Regions from separate parts of the Homo sapiens genome. Here regions 2 and 3 are each linked to region 1. Evidence: fine-mapped expression QTL. A gene starts in region 1. Each other region holds a variant in brackets. All regions are shown on one strand. Distances are from middle to middle.

Region 1 (7,057 bases):
GCTGAGGCAGAGGAGAGGGGCGTTGACTACAGGCTGGCCCTTTACTCACGAGACGGGGGTAATAAGCCCCCACAGAGGAGACAGATCTGAGAGGGGGCCTGTGGCCCCCAGCCACGCAGCATGGGCAGGCTGTGGGGGGGTGGTCTGAGGTTCACAGGGCACCTGGAGCCTCCCCTGCCAGAACGGCAAAATCTCAGCTGGGGACACTCAGCCAGGCCCTCTGTGGTGAGGTGTGGCAGCAGGTAAGGAGACAGTCACAGGCCCTCCGTCCTGAGACCCGGCCCCTCTGAGTTGACCAGATAAGGGGGCAGCCAGGAGGCACCCAGGTTCCCACAGCTAACCCCCGCTGGACCCTGTTCTGGCTGGGGGGCTCCAAGCAGGTGTCAGCAGCTTTCCAGGGCTCAGATCCCCCATCTGAAGTGTGGGCTTGAGACCTCCTATCTCAGAGGACTGTGCTGGGCTTAAGGAGAGAACGGTGAGCCCAGAAGCCTGGGGAGGCTCCTTCCCCCTCCACCAGGGCCAAGGGGGTGGGGCAGGCAGAGGGGGCGGGCCCAGCCCAGGCTCCTCCATTCATCCCCATAACGTCTTGCTCCAGGGCCCTCTGCCCCCACCCAGCAAATCTCCAGCTACTCGCCCCTGCCCCAGCCTCTCCTTCCGGGAAGGCAGAGGTACCAGGGAGGAGACAGCTCAGGTTACACAGGCCCTCAGGGCCCCTAGACTCTCCCTAAGGTGGGGCTGAGGTGGGGAATGGGCCTAGAGCGGCCGGTTGGGAGCCGTTGGAGCTGACTTTGCTGCTCCTCACCCAAGGCTGACCCCAGGCCCAACCTAAGTCTACAGGGCCCCAAGAGCCTTGGTTTTCAGGTGAGGTGTCCATGCATGGAGTCCACCAACAGAACCCGCCTACAGGTTTAAGGCTTGTTGGGGAGGGGACATGCACCCCAGGGGGTCTTCAGGGCCTGAACCCACATCTCCCAGGGAGACTGAAGCCCCCGGACCCTACCACCTGCTGGGCAGAGATGCTGCCCCTCCTGGGAGCCACGTGTTCCCAGCCCCAGTCAAAACTTCGCAGCTGGCCCTCCCCTACTTTGGAGGTCTCCTCGAGTCCCTAGACTCCTCCGAGAGGGGCTAGTGGGAGCCTCAGGTGGCTGGCCCCTCCCACCCCATCCAGAGGCCAACAGGTTCCAGCCTGTCCCGGGTAGGGCGGAGCTGCGCCCCCTCCCCACCGGCAGCAGGCGGCGGAGGCCAAGTCCCGCCCTCCCCGGGATCCCGGACTTGGGGCCGCCAGGGACTGGGCCCGGCCCCCCTCCCGCCCCGGTCACCGCAGTCGAACTGGACCGGCGCCCAGCCGCCCCCGGGTCCATGCCGGGGACTTTAATTCCGCCTTCCCGGAGGGACGCGAAGTTTCCCGGCCGAGACGGAGCGGCCGGGTCGGGGTGCCTTCTTGGGCCCCCAAAATGCGGAACCAGAGAGTCCGCACCTGGACTCGCCCCGGGCCACGGCGCTCCCCCTGGGGTCGGGCCGGTGTTCCGGGTCCGAGTGCCCCGGGAGGAAGCCCCACGGCCCGCCCCTGCGCTCACCCGGATGGTCTGGTTGGGGTCGCCGCCGGCCACGGGGCCCCCTACCAGCTTGCAGTAAAGGTCCTCGGTGGGGCGCGGGGAGCCGCGCGCCGGGGCCTCCTCTCCGCAGGTCGCGGAGGCGGCGATGCGGGCGCCCTCGGCCAGGTTGAAGTAGGGCGGGTGCAGGCTGAAGCCGCCGCCCGCCTCCTCCCGCGCCCGCGCCGCGCCCAGCAGCGCCAGCCCGACCAGCAGCAGCGGCGCGGGGCCCCGGGGGCCGCGAACACACAGTGCGCTCCCCGCGCAGAGCCGCTTCGCCATCTTCCCGGCTCCGGGCCGCGTCCCCGAGCTCCAGGGACAGCGCGCGCGGCGGGAGCCCGGCGGGTCTGAAGCCAGGCGGCCGGCAGGGCTCGCTCCGCCCGCGGACGTCAGGCCCCGCCCCGGCCCGCCCGAGCGCCCGAGCCCCGAGCCCCGGGGAGAGGTCCGGGGAGGCGGGGTGGGGGGGGGAAGGAGAGAGGAGGGGGAGGGGCGGCCGGGCGGCCTTAACCCTTCGGACCCCGGCCCGGCCGCCTCCCGGAAGGGGCACCTGCTGGCCTCGGGCCAGGCCGTGGGACGACGGCGCCGCCGGGCCCCCAGCCCAGGTCGTAGCTCCGGGTCCCGGGTGGGACCCTAGCGCTCCCCACGACGCCCTGGCCCCCAGAGCGCCCACCAGCTCCTCCCAGCCCAGGGGCCCACTCTTTGTTCCCCTAACTTGGGTGCACCACTCGGCTGCCCCCGCTCCTCCCCCAACAGCGTCCGTCCTGCTGGCTGCGGGAAGGTGCCCTCTGCACCCGCGAATGACCATCTGCAGAGGAACGGGGCAGCCTAGGTGGGAACCCCCTGCTTCCTGGGGCAGCCAGGTCAGGTTCAACTCGGCCTGGCTCCCGCCTGCCCCAGCAGGGCTTAAAAATACTCTCAGATAGGGAAATAGGGGCAGGAGGGACTGGCCTGCAGCTGCAGCCCCCTTTAGAGGACGGGGGCGGTGCTCATGGCCCCACAGCCGCCAAATTGGCTCTTAAGGAGGTCGGGGGCTCTGGTCACAGCTGCTGAGCACCTGCTGGGTGCCTGGAAGCACCTGTGCTCCGGGGCCCGGTGGACTCCACCAGCTCTCTCGGCCTGGCCTCCAACCCGCTGCACAGCCGCGCACGCGTTCCTGCCACGATCGGCGGCTCGAGGACGCCTGGCAAACAGCACAGGACCTAGAGGCCGAGATCAGGTCTTCGTCTGCCTTTGGGTGGCTGCGGCCCTGGGTCTCCTACTTCCCTTGGGCTCCGGGGCCAAATCTGCCTCCAGGGAAGCCCCGAGGGGGTGGCGGCGGGGTGGGGCTGCAGCTGCCGAGCTGGCAGCAAACCCCCATCCCTGAGCCAGGCCAGCTGGGCGGGCCATGGTCCCAGATGGGCTGTGGGGCTCATCTCTCGCTGGGTTCCCTGGACAGTCCCGGGGGGCTGGGTGGGTTTGTGGGGCACTGGCCAGCCGGTTCTGGTGGGGGTTCTGAGCTAGCAGCTGTCCCTGGAGGGTGCACCTCCTTGCACACCTTCCTGGCGCCCTGGCCTCCTGCAAATCTCAAATCCCAAGAGGGTGTATGGCCCTTTCTCTACGGAGTCGGGAGGGCGATGGGACCCTCTCTCCCTCCTCCTACTTTCCGGCCCGGCAATTCTTCCATAACTTCACTATTAGTTCTCCCACCTGGGGGAGGGGGGAGAGGAGGCGGCTCCCCTTGGCAGGAGAAGCTCCAAGTGGGGGAGGGGCTGGCTGGAGAGGGGGCGGAGACATCAAGGAATCTGCAGTCCAGGCGCAGAGTCCGGCTCTGAGCTGCTTTAGATCCCGTGTGAGGCAGAGAGTGGCCTCTGGGCAGTAGCGGGTCCCCAGGTGGGGGCTTGGCCCCAGGCAGTGTGCTCTGGCTCTGGGCTCCCCCTTGACAGCTTGGGGCTCTGACAGCCTGGGGGACTGGAGGTGGAGACTCCTGAGACCCTGAGGGCTTCTTGGGATCCCTGGAGGGTCGGGTGGTTGGAGGGGTGGGATTGCGAGTGGCGGGGCAGGGGGAGAGGTGGGGGTGGGGAGAGCACTTTAAGCCTCCTAGCGGCCAGATCAGGCCAAGCTGCCAGGCCTCCGCTGTCCCCCGGCACTGGCCAGGAGGGGAGCGGGGGCCGGCCCTGAGAATGCGCTGTGTCAGCCGGAGCTGCCAGCACCAGCAGGGTTAATCACCGGGCTCACTGCTTCCCGGCAGACAGCTGCCCCGGGAGCAACTGGCAGGCAGGCGGGCAGCGCAGTGGACAAGAGAATGTGGCCCAGGGGCTGGGTAAAGAGCCCACACTCTGCCCCCACCCTGTGTCTGCTGGTGCACGGACTGGGAAGGAGGCAGCTGGGGCAGGAGCTGAGCGTATGGAGGGCGGGGGGGCTGTCCCAGCCGGGCTACACACAGGGGGTTGGGGAGGTGAGCAGGGAGAGGGGCAGCTCATCTCTGCACACCCCCACCCCTGCTGTCTTTGTCATGGTTCCAGTGAGTCATCACCAAATGGACCAGCGAGCCTGTCTCCTTGTCTTTCTGAGTCCTGCGCAGCCCAGCCACCTCTTCTATTTACAAATGGGGAAACTGAGGCCAAAAAGGCCAGGGTCAATCAAGAGCACACAAGTTAGTAAAGCAAGAGGAAGTTTGTCCATCATTCATTTCTTACTCCTATTTACTGGGCATCTTTCGGGCACCCGCCCGTGACGTAGTCCTCCTCCCTGCAACAGGTCAGACGGCACCCCACCCCCAAACACGTCCTGTCCTGAATCCACAGGAGGGAGCTGCCCAGTCTGGGAGTGGAGGGGAGGGTAAAAGGAGGTGGCTCGCCAGGGGAGGGCCGTGGAGGAGCCTCTGTCCCACCAGGCTCTGGCTGCCCTCCAGGGACAATCCAAGATCCAGAGCCCCTGCCCACCCAGCTCCAGGGTGATGGAGCCCCAGAGGAGGTGGGTCGGGGGCAGGGGTCAGTGGCAGCCCGAGAGAAGTAGGGGCACTCCTGGCCCTGGGGAAGGGGTCTCAGATCCTCCCCCAGCCCTGGGACAAGGTCTGCTGCGGAGCCCTGGGGGCAGCCACCTCACCTGAGCCCCCAGTGCTACTCCAGTGGCATTCCTGAGAATGCCCCCACCCTACTCGGCCACACCTGCAGGCAGCTGTGGGGGACCCTGAGGGTAGGCCACAGGCACATCTGACTCAGCCGTGAGTCGTGAACTCCTGACCTTGGGAGCCTCCTGGGGACACCGCTGTGCTGAGGACATGGGGCACCCCCACGCCCACACTCAGCTGCATCACAGGCAGCCACAATCAGTAACAGATGACTCTGCAGACCCTCCTGTCCCAGAGCCCAGGGTCCAAGTGGGTGCTGTACCCTCGGGAGAAGCCCCCAAGAGGAAGCGGGGGCTGAGCAAGAAGGAGGGCTGGAGGCTGGGCTCCTGCTAGGGCCGGGCCTGCGGGTGAGGCCTTGTGGCTCCCACTCCAGAACTGGGAATGTTGTCTCAGCGGGATGAGGTCTGGAGGAACGCCAGCGCTGTGGTTTGGGATATCGGAGGCCACAGTCCCTTTCTCAGGGCTGCTGGGATGCCCTTCCGTGGAGCCGGCTGGTAAGAACCTCCATCCCTGTCCATGAAATAGAGAAGCTGGGAGCGGGCAGCAAGGCTGGTTCTGAACTGTTCGCGTGGGCCAGCTCAGTCCTCTGGGAGGAGGACACAGAACAGCAGGTGCCGGGAAGACAAGGTCTCATCAGGATTGCATAAACCCAGCGGACTGGGAGAGCTTCTGGGCCTCTTGGCCTAGGAGGCCCCCACTGCCCTCAGCCTGGACAGACTGCTGTAAGAGCCAGCCCGGAGTTGCAGACCCTGGGGGGCTGGCCTCAAAGGAATGGAGGCAGAGCCCAGGAAGACCCTGAGCCATAGCCAGACCCCTCCCCCAGGCCTGGAGCCCGCCTTCCCCCAGGGCTGCCACCTGCCTCCAGCCTCCGAGGGTCTGCAGGTTCCTGCTGCCAGAAGGATGGGGCCAAGGGATAGTCCGGCCTTCCTGGCCTAGGCAGGGTCTGGAAACAGCCCGTTTGGAAGGAGTGGTGCTTTTTCCTCCCTGGCTGTGACCCCAGCTGGGCCACTGCTGGGCTCCTGACGGCCTCTGGGACATGTGGTTGTTGGAAAGCACAGAGACCAGGCTCCGGGTTGACACTAACCAGGAATGAAGGACTCTGACCCACCGCTGCCTGGCCCCTGGCCCCTCTGCCACTTGCTGTGTGTGCCCAGCTCACAGGCCACGCAGCCCCAGGCACCACTCACGGGGCAGGCCCTCCACAGACTTGGGGCTCTTCAAAGCCTTCCAGGCCAGGCACCATGCCAGGAGCATGGCCACCGCCTTAGGGCTCCAGGAGACAAGTCACCCGTGCAGGTGACATGCCTCACGCCTGCCCACTCCCCGAGGCCCGACCCAAAGGCTGCCACTGGGTTCACACCTGGGGGGTTTCAGGTGGGCCCCCATGCCAGAGGGGGTGCAGACAGGCTTAGGTGGTGCCCAGTGTCGGAGATCTGGAGAGGGTCAGCATCCGGGCTCCTTGGGCTCTCCACAGATGCTCCCCGAGGCTCCTCTTGCCCACCCAGCTCCTTTTCTTCCCAAGTGGCAAGGAGAAGCGCTTGGGCTGGTGCCCTGTGCAGGCGGGCCCAGCCCCATGACAAGCAGGCAAACCTGGGGTGCTCAGAAATGGGGGGGCCTCATGGAGCTCTGTGGGGTGGTCTGCGTGGCGACCGAAAGTCCAGAGTCCAGGATCCCACCTGGATGCCCCTGCCCCGGCCTGGGCCTGTGTAGCTGGGTGTAGGGGAGCCTCCACCCTGCCAGCCTTTAGGAGGGAAGGAGTAGGGGGCCCTGGGAACTCCCAGGGAGGGGGCCCGGGACCTCCCTGGGATCTAACCACCTACAACTTGGCAGGGAAGGGGCCGGTCCAGTAACAAGGTTGCTCCCAGGACCCCAACCCATCCCCTCCCTCAAGTGGGGGCCCCTGTCAGGGCACCTCCCAGCACCTTGCTGGGGTGTGAGGCAGAGTCCAGGACTCCTGCCCCCAGATCTCTGGGGAGCCCCAGAAAAGGCATCGCCCGGGGTAAACATGCAGTGGCACACGGCTGCAGCGTCCACCCCGAGGCCGGGCACCTACGCTTCCACGTGTCACCTTAATCTTATTTAATTGCGGTCCCCCTACCCCGTACCCCCATTCTTACCACTTGCTTGCCTCAGGCCTAGACTGGGGAGCCCTAGTGAGCTCCAGGGGCCAGGAACCCCAGGGGAAACAGGCGGAATGGGGGCGCCCCAGCATGCTGGGCAGGGTGACTCGGGACCCTGAGCCTCTACCCCTGGGGCCTGGCCTGCCTGTGCCCTCCTCCCCCACAGGACCACGGCTCCAGCAGGCCCTCCCCTGCCTCTGTCCTTGCCTGGCTGAGCTCTGGTTCTCATAGAGGGT
Region 2 (7,057 bases), 120 kb before region 1:
ATCGTGAGAAAGAGCCCCCTGTAACCTGGGACCTTGTGCCACTGTGCTCGGCCAGAGAGCAACTTCCATTATTGCCTTAAAACTAGGGGGACTGTGATTCAGTGACATTTCGGTGACTCCGATAATGACGGCAGGTGTCAGGTGCGCACAGGGCGTGGGGCTACCCTCTTACTGTGAAAGAGGACACGGGCTGCGTCTGTGGTGGCGAGCTCCTGCGAGTGCCCTGGCTCTGGCTTGGCCTCTCTTGATGATGTAGCAGAGCTGGGAGTCTCGCTGTAATCATCACCCGTCTTCCAAGTAAGTCTCACCTGTGGGAAATGCTGGAACACCTGAGCGGAAGCAGAGCCAGGGCAGTGCCTGAGCTGGGGCCAGGGGAGGGGTCCCAGTGCAGAGGTGCCCGAGGAGCCCTAGCGCCTGCCCCGCAGCCCCTGCCCCGCAGCGCCTGCCCCGCAGCGCCTGCCCGGCAGCTCCGCCTCTTCAGTGGCTCGGCTGTCAGGGTAGAAGGCTCCTGGGTTAACATCATGGAGTTTTCACCCCTGCTTCTCATCAGAAAAGCTGGGGGAACTTTTTAAAAAGTGTGGGTTCAAGGCCCAGCCCCAGCTTCACTGAGCCTGGGTTTCCCGGGAGGGGCCCAGGAAGAGATGTGTTTAACAAGCTCGGGAGGGTCTGGGGTGGGTCCTCAGCGGGGAGTCCAAGTGCTGGAGGCCCACGGTGGGGTCAGGACCCTTTTTTAGATCAAGGACCCCTTTGAGAACTTCATGAATATGAATAATGTGGGTCATTATTCTGGGGAAAAAAATGAACGAAAAATTTTTTTTCCTGTTTTTTTAAATTTTTTAATTAAAAAAAAATTTTTTTTGCAGAGGGTAGGGGGGTTAGAGATTGGTGGTTTTCCCTGACCTTGGTTTGAAGCCCTGCCTGTAGGTGCTCAGGAAGCACAGTTGGCAGCCACGTGGGCAGGTCTGATGTTAGGGTGACAGGTTTCTCAGCACAGTGGACCCCATTAGGGCTGCACAGGATGAAGATGGGCACGATGGTGAGGAGGGCCTGGAGCTGAGGCCACAGAGAAGGAGGCGGCCAGAGGGCAAGGACGCACTCCAGCAAGCCAGCCACTCCTTGGCTGGGCAGGTGCCCTGGGGAAGGCCGGGAGCCCTGCAGGACAACAGCCTCTCACCTGGGTCACTCACTTCCCTTTGCTGTCTTAATTTTCCTCCCACTCCCTCACCGCGTCCTCCGCCTGCTGTGGCCCTTGCTGGGTTGTGAGATGTGGGTACAAGGTGTCTCCTTCTCCTCTAGCTGCAGCCGCAGGCTGGGCTCCTCTCGGGGCCGTTGGTTTTGATCATCAGAGATACACAGCGGCGGCGGGTCGGGGGCTGGCTGGACTGCTGCTGCCCTTGGAGTGCTCTCCCTGCCCTCCGGCATGGCTTTCTGAGAGCAGGGCGCCCGTGAGCTGTGGGGCATGCGCCCTGTCCATTGCCTTCCCACCCAGTCTCGTGGGCCGCATTGGAACAGCTTTTTATTGTGTTGCATAAGGAGAAGGTTGATTAAAACACATGTTTTTGTACGGAAGCGCTTGCATTCATCTTGTGTGTTTGGAAATACATCGTACTGCATTACAAGGTAATGTTCCTCGAGGTGCGTGGTGTATTTTTGGCAATTAATATTCCACAGGAAGCAGTTAAGTCAGCGACAAGACTTGAGGGAGTTGACTGTGGTGAGTGGGGCGCTAGGCTCCGCTTCCGGGACGTCGGGCCACACTGGCCGCGAGGCCCAGTGGGAAGGTTTGCCACTCCCCACAGCTGCTTCTTGGGACCAAGCCGGGCTCACCTTTGCCTGCCTCTCAAGGTCACCCTCTTGGCATGGAGAATGGTAAACAGTGGGGGTGCTGCTGTCTGCACAGTGGGAGAGGTTCACCTGCCTTTCTCAGTGTAGAAACTTCCTGCGTGAATTCTGGACTGATGCAGAGTCCTCATGTGCACCTGGCAAGTTTGCCTGGCTGGCACGCGTAGCACAGGGCCTTCCCGAGTCAGGGTTGAGCCATTCGTGTGTCCACGCTGGTGTCTTAGGATAAAGGGCTGAAATCTGTTCTTTTTTTTTTTTTTTGAGACGGTGTCTTGCCTCTGTCGCCCAGGCTGAAGTGCAGTGGCGCGATCTCGGCTCACTGCAACCTCCGCCTCATGGGTTCAAGTGATTCTTGTGCCTCAGCCTTCTGAGTAGCTGGGACTACAGGCATGTGCCACCTGTAATTTTTTTGTATTTTTAGTAGAGATGGGGTTTTGCCATGTTGCCCAGCTGGTCTTGAGCTCCTGACCTCAAGTGATCTGCCTGCCGTGGCCTCCCAAAGTGCTGGGATGACAGGCGTGAGCCACCGCGCCCGGCCTGAAACCTGTTCTTCAGCTAAGGCGTGTTACATTCTGTGTGGTGTTAGGGAGCTGGTTTGTGATGAGCCACGTAGAGCCCCACGCTAAGAAGAACCATACAGGCCTGAAGAAGGCGGAGAGGTTGTTCAGGTTAAAAAGCGCAGACCTAGAGCCAGCTGGTTCTGTGCTCAGAAGGGCTGTCTCCTGGAGCTTCTGATGCAGTTGGACTTAACCTTATTTGGCTAAAGGATCAAGAACCAGTGTTCAATAAAGGTCACTCTTGATTCCATCCCATTGCCACCAAAACACAGTGCATTTAAGGGCAAAGGCCTGAGCGGCCAGTCGTACGTGCCTCACTCGTGACGGGCTGCAGATGGTGACGAGGACAGACAGCCGTGCACATACCCCTTGTTAAAAAAGGTCATTGTTGTGAATGGCATATGACTTGTTTATTTGGTTCTAAATTTATACAAAATCTGTAAAAATAACCGTTAAGCTTTTACAATGACAGGAATATTAAGGCTTGATTTTTTTCCTCGACAATTGGCAGAAGGCGTGTTTCAGTGAGCACAGACGGAGCAATCCAGGGAGGTCTGGGAAGGAGGAATGGGGCCTGGCCTGGCGGTGTCCTTGACGGCCCTCCATCGTTGTGGGGTTGGTGTTTGAGAGGTAGCTGTGGCGCGGGGCCGGCTGCCATTCCCGCGTCTCCTCGCAGAGGCCTGGACCTGCGCCTGGGGCTGGCAAAGCCCTCTGCTCTCGCTGCTGCCGCCGCCTCCATCTTCCTCCACCCTCTGGTGGGGCTGGTCACAGGCAGGGCATGGTCCCATGATGGCTCAGCCCCATGGGGCCCCGGGACGCTGTGTCCAGGATGGGCGCCACTGCCGTGGGTGGCTGTTGAAGTGAAGTCAATTCAGCTGATTAGCATCCAGCATTCAGTTCTCCCTCACGTTTCAAGTGCTTGTAGCCACCTGTGGCCCATAGGGACGACACTGGACAGATGACATTTCCAGTGCCATGGGAGAGTCTAAGCTCAGCTCTGAAGCTGTGAAATGTTGAGTCTTTGTTTTAGTTAAGTTTTGTTTTTTTGCAAAAGAAACGAGATTGTGGCCTGGTGGCCAGCT[G/A]GGTGTCAGTGGGGTGAGGGCTTCTAGGCGTCCGGGTGATGCATGGGCTGAGTTTGCAAAGTGGATGTGTCAAGGCTGAAATGCTAGCTGAGAAGCATTGCCCACGCTAGGCTTGGACACGCAGGGAGGGATGAGGTGTCAGAGAGGCCCTGACTGGTCACTCCTGCCCCAGGGCTTAGAAGGTGCTGGGTGAAGAGAGCTGCGCCCCTGTCCCTCAGCCCCTGCCCCTCCCCCTCAGTGCCACACGGAGGTGCAGGCATCTCACACCAGGTTCTCCCTGGGTCCGTTCATGTCACAGCAGGCTTTGTCTTGCTGTCCATGATTTCATGTTCCCATCCTCCAGCCTTGATCCGGGAGACCTTTCTGTTCTTTAATTTCCACAGAGAGCTAATTCTGTCCTTAAACTTTGTGACTCTGATGCTCGTAGGTGACACTTGTTTCCCTTCCTGGTGCTCTGGCAACCTCGCAGTGTCATGGTGGCATCTTTCCAAGCATTTGAGTGGCCAGGTTAGGCCCTGCCAGGTCGCCGACTGCTCTGGGGAAGGAGAAGTCCTGCAGGGATGTGACAGTGGCTTTGGTTTGCTCCTTGGCCGGCCCCAGCCTGACCTAGTTCTGCTCTGCACTGTGGTTGGGCTCACGTGTTAGCCTTGACCTTGAGCGGATGGCAGGTGCTCTTCAGTGCACGATGCTGCACCGGGAACTTCGCTTGGCCCTGGAAGCTGGTTTGATGTGCACGTCGGCTTGAGTGAGTGCAGGGATGGCTGAGCTTGCCTCTTGGCTTAGGCACTGAAGATCTTCCTGTGGGTCCTCTGGGGTCGCTTGCTCTGTGGTTGTGCTGGATGTGGCCTCTTGTGGAGCAGAACCAGGCCTGTGGAACCCATTCCCTGTGACTGCCCTGGCACCTTGGCTTATGATTGCTGCCCCCACGCCGCAGCTGCCTCCCTGCGAAGCTCAGCGGGACCGCGGGGACTGAGGGACTGTAGCTCCCCGGCCATGCCTGACCGCAGTGTGATCCCTACGGGAATGAGTTTGAAAGTCTCTGCCAGTGGCTTTGACCTGTCAGGAGGAGGAGCATTCTTTGACCTGTCAGGAGGAGGCAGGAGGAGGCAGGAGGAGGAGCATTCTTTCAAATGGAAGTAGTGTTGGATGGGGTCCTTAGGGTCCTTTCTTTCTTTCTTTTTTTTTTTTTTTGAGCTGGAGTCTCGCTCTGTCGCCCAGGCTGGAGTGCAGTGGTGCAATCTCAGCTCACTGCAATCTCCTCCTCAGGTTCAAGCTATTCTCCTGCCTCAGCCTCCCTAGTAGCTGGGACTACAGGCACCTGCCACCATGTCCGGCTAATTTTTGTATTTTTAGTAGAGATGGAGTTTCACCATATTGGCCAGGCTGGTCTCGAACTCCTGACCTTGTGATCCGCCCACCTCGGCCTCCCAAAGTGCTGGGATTACAGGTGTGAGCCACTACGCCCGGCCCCTTAGGGTCCTTTCTAAGACAGAACCCCATCGTTGTTAATAGTGGGAACGTTTTCCCTTTCAGCAAAATACCACATAAGGCTCTGTGCACAGTTGTTTATTTGTTAGTGCTGCTTGCTGATGTATTTTTAAATTATGAAATAAAACTTATATTTTCTCTCTTTTCTTTTTTTTTCTTTTTTCTTTTCTTTTCTTTTTTTTTTTTTTTTTGTGACAGGGTCTCGCTCTGTTGCCCAGGCTGGAGTGCAATGGCTAAATCTTGGCTCATTGCAACCTCTGCCTCCCAGGTTCAAGCGATTCTCCCACCTCAGCCTCCTGGGTAGCTGAGATTAAAAGTGCACGCCACCATGCCTGGCTAATTTTTGTATATTTTGGTAGAGATGGGGTTTCACCATGTTGGCCAGGCTGGTCTCGAACTCCTGACCTCAGGTGATCCGTCCACCTCGGCCTCCCAAAGTGCTGGGACTGTAGGCATGAGCCATCGTGTCTGGGCAGAACTGTATGAACTTAGAATTGATGTTTAACCTCAGAAGTGATTTTAGAATCTTTTTGTGATCAGTGCACTCTCTGTGTCCAGCATGTCCGGGGTGCCCTGCCTGTTTCTGATGGACAGAGTAACAACATGTAATTGAACTTCCAGCAGGTCGCCCGTGGTGGTCAGCACCGGATCCCCAGTCTCGTTCACCAACTTCCTGAACTGTCAGATCTGCTTTATTTATTTATTTATTTATTTATTTATTTTTTAAGAGACAGGGTCTTGTTCTGTTGCCCTCTCTGGAGTGCAGTGGAGCAATCATAGCTCACTGCAGCCTCCAACACCTGGGGTCAAGCAGTCCTTCTGCCTTAGTCTCCTAAGTAGCTGGGACTTATAGGCACGTGCCACTGTGCCCAGCTAATTTATTTTATTTTGTTTTTTTGTACAGACAGTATCTCACTGTGTTGCTCAGGCTGGTCTTAAACTCCTGGGCTCAAGCCATCTGCCACCTTGGCTTCCCAAGGTATTGGGGTTATAGATGTGAGCCACCGTGCAGGGCCCACATCTGAGAAAAACATAAAGATGGGTTTGTACGACTTGAGTCCAAGTCTTCATACCAGTGGTAGGACATTTTGAGATCCTGGTGGGACGGGGACAGCACCTTTAAGAAAGTGTGCTGGGGTCCTTTTCAAGGGACTGGTGAGTTCCCTGGGCTAGGGGAACTGAGACTCACTGGGGCCTGCAGGGATGGCGTCCTTGGGGCCAAGGAAGTGCCCCCCAACCCCCCAAAAAAAAAATCTCACTGGAGAAGGACAAAGGGCAAGAGGCCAGCAGAGATGCCCAGCACAGACTCAGGCCCCAGGGTTTTTCTCTAGAAGTAGAAAAGGGAGAAGTTGAACAGAAAGAGCCCCTTAAAACAGACAGAAAACCCCAGCAAAGTTTGTTCCTGAAATACTCTCTCTGGGGATTGTTTTCTGAGTGCAAAGTGAGATCTGCGCGTGGAAGAACATATTCAGGAAATAAACTCTGCCTTCCTAATGCTTTTTCTTAAACATTTAACTTTCTGTATATTCCTCAACTTTGATACTCAATTATGAAGCCTAACTTTTGCTTTTTAAAATTATTTTTGCTTTTTAAATTTTTATTTATTTGTTAATAAAATAAACAGCCTCTGTCGCCCAGGCTGGAGTGCAGTGGCGCGATCTCGGCTTACTGCAACCTCCGCCTCCCAGGTTCAAGCAATTCTCCTGCCTCAGCCTCCCGAGTAGCTGGGATTACAGGCATGGGCCACCACGCCTGGCTAATTTTGTATTTTTAGTAGAGAAGGGGTATTCTCCATGTTGGTCAGGCTGGTCTGAACTCCCGACCTCAGGTGATCCACCCGCCTCAGCCTCCCAAAGTGCTGGGATTACAGGCCTGAGCCACCACACCTGGCCCCACCCAGGCCTCTGAGAAGTCCAGGGGTGGGCAGATGGGAGGGAGGAAGGACTGAGGACCTGGCTGGGGCAGGCGCTCCTCGACCCCATGGGGCCATCTGTGCTTCCCAGCACACCCTGGTCCTCCTGTCTTTTCTCCCTGCCCCCAAGGCTCACTCTGAGCTCAGCTCCAGGGTTGCCCCCTTAGGAACTTGCC
Region 3 (5,000 bases), 29 kb before region 1:
GGTGACACACACACCCACACAAGCAACACATGACACCCGTACACACACAGAACGCAACACATGCACCCATACGAGACACGACAGGCGCGGATGCACAGCACGCAGACACGGGCAGTACGCGGACACCCCTGCACGGCATGTGAACAAGGTGCGAACACAGAGCGTGGGGACGCAGTCGCAGTACACACAGCAAGATGCACGTGAACAGCCTCACAGGAAGGCAGGCAGCGTGTGAACAGCACAGACCCACACACAGGCCCGGCACCTGGTGCACACAGCCACCTGCCTGCTCACCTTCGCAGTAGGGGAAGTTGTAGGCACCGGGCACACATGTGTCACACCGCAGCCCCGTCACACGGGGCCGGCAGCTGCACTGCCCACTCCGGGGGTCACAGGCTGCGTGCAGGGAGCCTTCAGCAGAGCAGTGGCAGGCTGCAGACAAGGATAGCTGTGGGCACGCAGTGGAGACTGCACCTGCCTCCCCACCACTTCCTCCCTAGGCACTCACGGACACAGCTGGGGAAGCCGTGAAAGCCGGGGCTGCATTCCTGGCAGGCAGTGCCTGTGTAGCCGGGGCGGCAGCGGCACAAACCTCCCGCCCCACAGAGCTGGTCCAGGGCTCCCCGAGGGTCGCAGGTGCATGCTGCAGAGGGACAATGGGGTCAGGCCCTGGCGCCATGTGGGTGGCAGAACCCCTTCCTGCCCTGACCCTCTGCTCACCTTGGCAGTTGGGGAAACCATGGTAGCCAGGGCGGCACCGGTCACAATGAGGTCCAGCAAACTCAGGCTGGCATAGGCAGCGGCCGGCCTCATCGCAGCCCTCGGGCAAGGTTCCTGCAGGGCTGCAGCCACACACTGCAGAGCGGAGCGGGTGTCACGGTAGGCCAGGCCCACGGGCCTCCCCTACCCACGCCCACGTGGAGAGGCACCACTCACACTGGCAGAGAGGGAAGTGAAAGTAGCCGGGGGCACAGCGATCACATGTGGCCCCCTCGAAGCCCACTCGGCACCTGCACTGGCCTGTGTCAGGGTCACAGCGGTCATCGGCCACTCCAGGGCTGGAACACTGGCAGGCTGCAGGAAAGGGTGGCCCACATGCTTGGTCAGAGGCACCAGGCCTCAGGTGTCCACCTCGAGCGCAGGTAGAGGTTGAGCGGGGAGAGGGGACTCACGCTGGCAGCCGGGGCCGTAGAACCCTGGCGCGCAGAGCTCACAATGGGTGCCTTGGAAGTTGGGTTTGCACAGACAGCGTCCCACCCTTGGGTCCTTCCGGCAGGCGTTGCCCTGGGTCCCTGCCGCGCTGCAGTCACAATCTGGAGGGTGGGGACAGGCAGGGGAGTCTCAGATGCCCTGCAGACCCCAGTACGCCCCTCCTGGCAAACCTTCCCTCTCCACAAACTCATTTTCTTACACTTTTACACAACACTAACTAGAAAATAAAATAATAAAAATCCCAGCAAGGGCTGGGTGCAGTGGCTCACGCCTGTAATCCCAGCACTTTGGGAGGCCGAGGCGGGCAGATCATGAGGTCAAGAGTTCGAGACCAGCCTGACCAACATAGTGAAGCCCTGTCTGTACTAAAAATACAAAAATTAGCTGGGCGTAGTGGTGCACCCCTGTAATCCCAGCTACTTGGGAGGCTGGGGCAGGAGAATCGCTTGATCCTGGGAGGCGGAGGTTGCAATGAGCCGAGATCGCACCACTGCACTCCAGCCTGGGCGACAGGGTGAGACTCCGTCTCAAAAAAAAAAAAAAATTCCAACAAGGGAGAGGCGTGTTTGGGAAAACAGTGATGTGCAACAAAGTCAGGCCAACTATCAAAACGCTTCATTAGTTATTTCTTACGTAGATTCCTAGTTAGCTGCAAGCATTAACACAAAGAGAAAATACAAACAAATCAAAACTCAAAACAAGCTGCAAAACAAATTATAGTTTCTTTTTTTTTTTTTTTTTTTTTTTTGAGACGGAGTCTTGATCTGTCGCCCAGGCTAGAGTGCAGTGGCACGATCTGGGCTCACTGCAAGCTCTGCCTCCCGGGTTCACACCATTCTCCTGCCTCAGCCTCCCCAGCAGCTGGGACTACAGGTGCACGCTGCCACGCCCGGCTAATTTTTGTATTTTTAGTAGAGACGGGGTTTCACTATGTTAGCCAGGACGGTCTCCATCTCCTGACCACGTGATCCGCCTGCCTCGGC[C/G]TCCCAAAGTGCTGGGATTAAAATTATAGTTTCTTTAGAAACAATGTCAGGTGTTGGGAAGAAGGTAGAAAGAATGTATCAAATGTCTTAACTTACGCATGAAAGGAGGGTTGTGAGCACGCTTCAGTTTTGTTACTGATAGAAAAATAAAGGTTCAATACTTGTCAAAAATGTAAGAGTAACCACTGGTCAGACCAGAACACAGAAAGAGAGCTTGCAAACCCTCCCCAGAGAGGAAACAGTAGCAAAAACCAAAATCAAAGCACGTTTTCTTGCTCTAACTTGTGAAAGTCAGGAAAGGAAATGTTTCAGCAGAAAAGGAGAAATGATACAAGGGCAGGAGCCAGCCAGAACTGACAGAGGCAAGGACGATCGTGGGGCTGCGCTGTCTCCTTCATGAGATAAAAACCGAAGACGTCAGCGTGACCAAGAGGAAACTCCAGCCATAGCCTCTTGAAAGAGCGTACCTTAAACCAACGCCTCAGACAGGTGGTAAACCGAGAGCTGTGTGCAGGGAGCTGGGGTGGACGCAAACACAGAGGAGTGAGGACGGAAGGCACAGCGGTAACGAGACAGAGGGAAGCTCAGGCATGTCACCCAACGGGCAGCAGAAACGAATCTCTAGGAGCAGGTAACGTGTCCTGGAGGTGAGGGAAGCTAAAACTATTAAAATGGCAAGGAGAATTTGGCAAACCAGAGTCAGAGAGAGACAAAGACTGGATGGAGATACATAGGTAGACTGTGACAGCTCAGAGGGACAGAAATTGAGCAAGGGTACTGTGGGTTTGAAGAGCATAATGAACAAGCCTCCTTTGTTTTTTTTTTTTTTTTTTTTTTTGAAATGGAGTTTCGTTCTTGTTGCCCAGGCTGGAGTGCAGTGGCGCCATCTCAGCTCACTGCAAACCCTACCTCCCGGGTTCGAGCCATTCTCCCGCCTCAGCCTCCCGAGTAGCTGGGATTACAGGCATGCGCCACCATGCACAGCTTATTTTGTATTTTTAGTAGAGACGGGGTTTCTCCATGTTGGTCAGGCTCGTCTCGAACTCCCGACCTCAGGTGACCTGCCCACCTCAGCCTCCCAAAGTGCTGGGATTACAGGCGTGAGCCATCGCACCTGGCCACAAGTCTGCTTTAACATGCCAAATCGGTACTCCATAGAGAACACACATTCCTGTCCAATGTTCCTGGAACAATCTAAAAGTGGTCACATTCTGGATTAGAAACAAAGAAAATCTCAAATTCCAAAAACAAAAGGCAGAAACTGCCAGGCGCAGTGGCTCATGCCTGTAATCCTAGCACTTTAGGAGGCTGAGGTGGGTGGATCAACTGAGGTCAGGAGTTCGAGATCAGCCTGGCCAACATGGTAAAACCCCATCTCTACTAAAAATACAAAAATTACCCAAGTATGGTGGTGGGCGCCTATAATCAGTCCCAGCTACTCGGGAGGCTGAGGCAGGAGAATCGCTTGAACCTAGGAGGTGGTGGTTGCAGTGAGCCGAGATCGTGCAACTGGACGCCAGCCTGGGTGACAGAGTGAGACTCTGTGTCAAAATAAATAAATAAATAAATAAATAAATAAATAAATAAATAAAATTAAAAAATAAAAGTCGTCACATTCTAGGTTAGAAACAAAGAAAATCTCAAATTCCAAAGACAAAAGGCAGAAACTATCAGTGTGCCAAGTCTAACCACGATGCAGCAAAACCAGAACTGCACACCACGAAAAGGACAGGAGGGAAACCTCAGCACCTTGAACAGTGACGGGTTGAAAGAAAATAAAACCCCAAATGATAGACTATTTAAAAAAAACACAGCAATGAGGACACCCCACATCTCAAACTACAAGATACCTAGCCAAAGGTATACTCTGAGGAAAATTTATAGCTTTAAACTAGAGTTTCCCAGCCTCAGGACTACTGACAGTCCAGGCTGGATAACTCTTTGTTATGTGTGCAGGAGCAGTCCTGTGTTGTAGGAGGTTCCCAGCATCCCTAGCCTCTACCCACTGGATCAGTTACATCCATCAATCGTCACAACCAAAAATGTCTCCAGACATCATCGAATGCTTCCTGTGCATCAAAGTCACCACTGGCTGAGAACCACTGCTTTAAGCCTTTTTGTTGGGAATGAAGACAGACTAAAAATAATAACTCAAGAAGCTATTTTAAAAAAGTGATAAATCAAAGAAAGTGGATTAAAGAAATTGAATATTAGAAAGGAAAATCTCTCCTCCCAACTAAAGAAAGAAAAACCTCAGCAGGTCTTATCAAGAGAACTGCACCTGTACTTCGAACAGACCAATAAACTCAACGAACCTCTGTTAGGTCTGATCAACCAAAAAAAAAAAAAAAAAAAAAGAAGAAGAAAGAAAATAAAAATAAAAATAGACGAGAATAGAAATGAACAGAAATTTTAACTTTATAACAGGCCACTGTGCATAACTTTATGTCAATACATTAAAAAATCCAAACAAAATACACAATTTGCTAATACAAATAATCAAACCTGACTTAAGATGAGGAAGAAAACTGGCCAGGCGTGGTGGCTCATGCCTGTAATACCAGCACTTTGGGAGGCCGAGGCAGGTGGATCACTTGTGGTCAGAGTTCAAGACCAGCCTGGCCAACATGGTGAAACCCCGTCTCTACTAAAAATACAAAAAATTGGCCAGGCGTGGTGGCAGGTGCCTGTAATCCCAGCTACTCGGGAGACTGAGGCAGGAGAATCGCTTGAACCCAGGAGGCAGAGGTTGAAGTGAGCCGAGATCGTGCAACTGCACTCCAGCCTGGACGACAGAGTGAAACT

The links. PIP is the estimated chance that this variant, and not a neighbour inherited with it, causes the effect.
Region 2: its variant is the best candidate, but not a certain one, in a credible set for the expression of LAMA5 in whole blood (INTERVAL, PIP 0.75).
Region 3: its variant is the best candidate, but not a certain one, in a credible set for the expression of LAMA5 in whole blood (INTERVAL, PIP 0.83).

What each region holds. Positions count from the first base shown.
Region 1 is chr20:62,365,372-62,372,428 of GRCh38, forward strand. LAMA5 (laminin subunit alpha 5) reads right to left here and starts at 1,941. Exons shown (of 80, transcript NM_005560.6): 1 at 1,578-1,941. The coding sequence starts at 1,874. RefSeq lists enhancers at 1-47, 746-1,445, 3,544-4,243, 5,644-6,341 and a silencer at 1,625-2,064.
Region 2 is chr20:62,243,013-62,250,069 of GRCh38, forward strand. The region is part of intron 1 of OSBPL2 (oxysterol binding protein like 2); the gene reads left to right. Among named protein-coding and RNA genes, the nearest start is that of OSBPL2, 8.0 kb to the left of the region's middle. RefSeq lists enhancers at 781-1,389, 1,390-1,997. The variant G/A (reference allele first, on the strand shown) is at 3,482.
Region 3 is chr20:62,337,296-62,342,295 of GRCh38, forward strand. LAMA5 (laminin subunit alpha 5) reads right to left here. Exons shown (of 80, transcript NM_005560.6): 12 at 1,173-1,313; 13 at 937-1,074; 14 at 721-855; 15 at 509-643; 16 at 295-432. LOC124904946 (a long non-coding RNA gene) reads left to right here and starts at 2,679. Exons shown (of 2, transcript XR_007067699.1): 1 at 2,679-2,826. RefSeq lists an enhancer at 2,739-2,868. The variant C/G (reference allele first, on the strand shown) is at 2,196.